Linked DNA regions of Homo sapiens: region 1 is linked to region 2. Evidence: fine-mapped expression QTL. A gene starts in region 2. The other region holds a variant in brackets. All regions are shown on one strand. Distances are between the middles of the regions. Region 1 overlaps LRRK2 (leucine rich repeat kinase 2). Region 2 holds the start of LRRK2 (leucine rich repeat kinase 2).

Region 1 (2,922 bases), 140 kb after region 2:
TTTGAAAAAGCTTTTATTTCTTTTAGAATATGAAATGTTAATTTATTAAATGTTGATACTCTATTTGAAATTTAATAGTTTCTATAATGTATTATAAAACTTTTCCAAGTATAGTTTTTTATAAATAATAATTTAGTACATTAGTTATAGCTGTGTTTATATTTACATTTATCTAAGTCAACTAAAAATACATGAGCCAAACTGAAATAAAATAAGAATGTTTTATGATGGATCTTTGAAACATGATTTCATTTTTTTCTTTTTCTAGAGATACAATCTTGCTTGACCGTTTGGGACATCAATCTTCCACATGAAGTGCAAAATTTAGAAAAACACATTGAAGTGAGAAAAGAATTAGCTGAAAAAATGAGACGAACATCTGTTGAGTAAGAGAGAAATAGGAATTGTCTTTGGATAGGAAAATTATTCTCTCCTCTTGTAAATATTTATTTTAAAAATGTTCACATGGAAAGGGTACTCACATTTTTTGAAATAGCTCGTGTGTATGAAGGAATGTTATTATTTTTAATTTAAATATATGTAAAAATACTTACCAGTAAATGTGTATTTTAAAGAACTATTTAAAACACAATGTTATATTTCTTATAAATACCAGTTACTTTCGTTCATTAATTAATGAAAATAAATCTGTGAAGTACCTAATTTAAGTACTCATACTAAAATTTATAAGGCCGATAATTTTTTGTTTTCTTGTCTGTAATGGAGGTAAACTTTATTTTAAATTCTGTGCTTAAGACAGGACTATTGCTTGTCGATTTTTCTAGAAATCTGCACGGTATAATGAAAATATTAAGACAGTTTCCCATGTAATGTATTCCTTCTTAGATTGCATCGAAATGCACTATCATATATGCTTGTAAATATTCAAATGAATTTGCACTAATAAAGTCCTTTGTTGGTATGTGAATTCTCTTTGTTGCTGTTGCAAACAGTGCATCTTACACAACTTCACTCAATTCAAAAGAAAACTCCATTAAAAGTACTAATGAAAAAACATGACATACTGTCAAAGTCCTCATATCTAGGAAAGACACAGAAACTCTCTTTGTCACAGAAACTCTCTGTGTCTTTCCTAGACATAATAGAGTTGTTTTTCAACTCTATGTTTGAATGTGGATACCCTGAATTTTGTATAATTAGTGTAAATACAGTGTTCAGTCCTTCAAGTGATATTTTTATTTTTTTATTCATACCACTAGCTACTTGTTTTCTAATCTGCTTCATTCTAATGCTTATATTCATCTTTTCCCTAAATTTGTGATGCTGCAGATCCTACATCATTCAGATAGAAAC[C/CTTT]TTTTTTTTTTTCAGAATTATAGAATTCCACAGCTCCTACCAAGACCATGAGGATAAATATCTAACACTTTTCAGTTGCTGAAGGAGAAAGGAGCTTTAGTTATGATGGATAAAAATATCTGCCACCCTAGGCTTCCAAATTATACTTAAATTGTTTACATAGCTTACCACAATAGGAGTATCAGGGCCAAATACCTATGTAATAATTTGAGGTCATTTCTGCTTTAGGAAAAGTACTTTCGGTAAATTCTTTGGCCCTGACCAGTATTCATTATTTCAGATAATTCCCTGTGATAGGACAACTAGTACATTTAATATTCTCAGAACTTATGGCATTTTACTATGTGAAAACTTTAAATTTATTTATATTAAGGGTAATCAAATTCTTAAAGATGAAAGATTTTCTGTATTTTAAAGGAAGCTATGCTTTAACTTGTTATGTAATTAACAAAAAAATCATATATAATAGAGCTCTTTGTTCCAGTGTTATCTCTTTCATTGTTACTTTGTATTTGCAATTTTTTTTACCAAAGACAAATTAAAAAAATGAATACCATATTTAAATGGAATAATAAAGGTTTTTTAAAAACTTTAAATGCTTTTAAGCATGTTTATGAATTTTTAAACTTTGTGATAGTGTTTTGCTTTTCACATATAGGTCTGTTATCCATCTCATAGGAAACTTTGTATTAATTTGTATATGGGACATTCCACAATAAGAAAGTGCAACTAAAGTTTTTTCCTTGATAACTTATGGAATATTTAAATTTAATTTTCTATAATACATATAGTTGCCAGGATCCCAGGACAAAATCTGATGGGCATGATACATTCTATTTTCAAGTTCTCTTAAAAAGTTTTTGTAAGTAAACTTGTTTGCTCTTGAGTACTGAAACAAAATATAAGACTTTAGAGCAAATGACATATACAAAAAAAAGGCACAGTCACTTCAACTGTTTTCTGATTAGAAGCCTAAAATAACTTGCTAATTATGATCAAAATACAAGCATATTATCGTAACAAAATATTCTTTTGGGAAAATTTTGAATTAAGAAAAGGGAGCCTCTTTGACTCTAATTCTGGTAGGTACTCTATCGATTATGTGTGAACTATTTCAACTAAAACGCAACTTATTTTTCATCAAGGCAGTGAAATATATTGATGAAACATAGCAGAATTACCAAAAAAAGATTGTCAATTTTCCTAAGTTAAATGTAAGGATGCAAATGTTCTAATATTGAGGGGAGATAAAATTCAAAACCATTGGGACTTTGCTTCTTTATCCATCACTTTGGGTAGCTGAACACCTAACCTGGTAAATTGAATGTTTTTCATGGAGGCTTATCAGCAATTCAGTAAAATAGTAAACTATGTCAACTCGGGAGAAACTGACATCCTCATTCTCCATGCTAGCCAGTTTCTCATCCAGGGTGTCATTGTTTCTAATAACAATTCAGAATCTGGCTGCTTAAAGGCACCTACGTACGTGGTTCTTTCTAATTTGTCAAGGCATTTGGAGTGATCCTATCACCCTGATTTCAAGCAAAAGACAGGGAGGCACCTGACCCAAAGGCCTGCTGTCTGAACACACTCTGAATGGGTGAGCAG
Region 2 (2,922 bases):
GTAGAACAGACCACATGAACCCATCTCATATTATCTTCAACAATTATCAATTCAAAAGTTGTTATCGTTATCTCTATCTCCACACATTTCATCTTTTCCTCCACCACTGGATGACTTTGAAAGAAATCCTAACCATTTCAACTATAAATATTTTAGCATGTCTCTGTAAAAGTTAAAGACTCTATAACAACAAGACATAGACCCAATATCCAGGTTGAGTAGGAGTTTGCTATCTTACTAATCTAATGTATTAACAAAGTCTAGAGCATTCTTATTAAAGTGGTAGAGCATGAAGAACCTTCTACCTGGAGTTAGGAGATTTGCTGGGTTGAAGTCCTGGCTCTCAACTTCCCACCTGTGTGACTCCAGCAAAGCTCTTCACTTCTCAATTCCAAATCTCAATTTCCTCACTAGTGAAAGAAGGATACATAGTAGTAGTTGTATCCATTTCAGAATTGTCATCAGGATTGAAGTAACAGATGTGAAAACAAAACTAAAATTGTGAAGTAGTAACTTCCAGTCCAATCCTCTTCTTTGTAAGTGATCTTGAGGACAGACACATCACCTGAAGGATAGATCATCTTTGCCTAGCCTTGTCTACAATGTTCTTGCTAGGTTTCTTTTCCTAAAAACACATTACTTAGGTACTTAACAGAACAAACAAACAAACAATCAAAAGACAAAACCAAAAAACTTTGGGGTTATAGACACCCATACTCATAAGTATTTCTGAATACCAAGAGAAGAGTATTTAGGTTTGCTTCTCTCAACTTTTCACCTTTCATTTCATGTACCCTGTCCTTTGTCTCAGCTCTAATAGCTCTGAGAGCTGATTACTTTTCGGGTGTCCCAAGTATCAGGATCCTGCCTAGTGCAACTCAAATTTCCAAAAGTTAATTTAGTGGCCTTTTGGTGACCAGAGCTTCAGATAACTCACAGGGAAACAATGTTTATTTCCTCTCCCACTAACAGTCACAAAAAATCATAAAAAAGAGTAGCGGGGGCAGTTTTGATGGCTAACCCCTCTTTCCATCCTTTGGGGGAAAATTGCTCATCTCCCTATAGGTGGAACTCTAAAGACAATGTATTCCTAAAAGGGGCCATCTGGGCGGTGTCCTCTTTTCCCAGCGCCCTGATTTCTATTCTTAGATCTGGAGATAGGCGGCTTTCATTTTTCCTGCTCCCAGTTCCCAGACCTTCCGTGGGGCCGCAGGATCCCCGGCTGGCGGGTCGCGGAGGGTGGCCGGCCGGGCTGCGCACTGCGCGCCTCCGCTGCGGGGCTCCGGGCCTGTGGACTCAGCGGAGTCCGCTGAGTCAGTTTCTTCCCGCGCGACTCCCGGCCGCGCCGCCGCTGCGGTGGAATCTGGTCCCAGGAGGCGGCGTCCGCCCGGGGTCCGGTCTAGGCGTGCGTGGGGGCCACGGTCACGGTCATCCCAGCCAGGCCCGGCTCCAGCAGCCCCACGGCCGCCGCCAGAGTTCTGCGCGGCCCGTCGCCTCGGCGGAGCCTCTGGCAGGCCCCTGAGCTCGTTTTTGGGGCCTGAGTGGGGGAGGAGGAAGCCGAGCAGGAGGGCTCCGGAGAGGGAGGGCAACGCGGGGCGGGGAGCTGCCTCCTTCCTCATAAACAGGCGGGCGTGGGCGCCGATGGGGCCCGCGGGGAGCGCTGGCTGCGGGCGGTGAGCTGAGCTCGCCCCCGGGGAGCTGTGGCCGGCGCCCCTGCCGGTTCCCTGAGCAGCGGACGTTCATGCTGGGAGGGCGGCGGGTTGGAAGCAGGTGCCACCATGGCTAGTGGCAGCTGTCAGGGGTGCGAAGAGGACGAGGAAACTCTGAAGAAGTTGATAGTCAGGCTGAACAATGTCCAGGAAGGAAAACAGATAGAAACGCTGGTCCAAATCCTGGAGGATCTGCTGGTGTTCACGTACTCCGAGCGCGGTAATCACTTGAAAATAAACTGTGCTTTTATTTTTGCAAACTTTCTCCCCCTCCTTACATTTGCAAATTTTGTCCTCCTCCCCTTGACCCTGCTCAAACCCGGACTCTTAAGGAGCCGCAAACTCCCATATCCTTTCCTTAGGGCAGAAAGCAGCTGAGAATTTCAGGAAGGTCTTCACCTTTTTGACTTTTCTCCCCGTTTCAGACTAAAAAGGAGAGGGGGTGCTGTGGATTGTGACTTTGCTTCTTTTCCCCACCCACTTGTTTTCCAGCCTCCAAGTTATTTCAAGGCAAAAATATCCATGTGCCTCTGTTGATCGTCTTGGACTCCTATATGAGAGTCGCGAGTGTGCAGCAGGTAAAGGCATTGTTTTCACTTCAACTCATTCTCCCTTCTGTTTGGAAGGAGACGTTTTACTGGCAATGTTAATATAGCCGAGAGTTCTTGGTTATTCCCAAAATTTGGCTTGAGGAACCTCTGACTGTGATTTTAAGATGGGAATATTGTTAAATCATTACGCAATGTAAACGGGATGAAGAGCCCCAGTATGTGTTCCCTGAGTGTCTTTAAGAAGTAACTTTATAAAACCAACAGTATGGATGGTGGTAGAAGGAGGATAAAAATGGGTTCGGTTTTAGTCTCGTTATTGGCAAGATGAATTCATTAGTGTTTAGACTTGACTATTCCAAGTATCTTCCCAATACAGAGCATGTCCTAGATGAGAAGATTATGAATAGTTTGGAAAAGGGGAATAATTAATAGTGATAAAATGCAACTTTGTCACTAGCAAACTCTTGTAGAGTTCAGCACTTTTTAAAATTCAAAGATTTCTAGCCTTTAGTTGTAGTATACCTTGTAGTATCTAAAGAAAGTGATGTCTTATGAGACCCTCATAGTTTGCAACTGTTGTCATATAAAATGCATGTAGAAGTGAAACTTTTACAATCTGTACCATAGGAAACCCAGAAATTTGCTATGTATCTTGGATTTTT

What was found.
Region 1: its variant is fine-mapped to the expression of LRRK2 in whole blood (INTERVAL, PIP above 0.99).

The regions. Positions count from the first base shown.
Region 1 is chr12:40,367,376-40,370,297 of GRCh38, forward strand. It overlaps LRRK2 (leucine rich repeat kinase 2), which reads left to right. Exons shown (of 51, transcript NM_198578.4): 51 at 269-1,910. The coding sequence ends at 390. All of the region lies in intron 5 of LOC105369736 (a long non-coding RNA gene), which reads right to left. Among named protein-coding and RNA genes, the nearest start is that of MUC19, 25 kb to the right of the region's middle. The variant C/CTTT (reference allele first, on the strand shown) is at 1,315.
Region 2 is chr12:40,223,354-40,226,275 of GRCh38, forward strand. LRRK2 (leucine rich repeat kinase 2) reads left to right here and starts at 1,644. Exons shown (of 51, transcript NM_198578.4): 1 at 1,644-1,929; 2 at 2,202-2,287. The coding sequence starts at 1,779. LRRK2-DT (LRRK2 divergent transcript) reads right to left here and starts at 469. Exons shown (of 9, transcript NR_186757.1): 1 at 306-469. LINC01779 (long intergenic non-protein coding RNA 1779) reads right to left here and starts at 1,550. Exons shown (of 1, transcript NR_186584.1): 1 at 1-1,550. RefSeq lists a silencer at 1,410-1,769.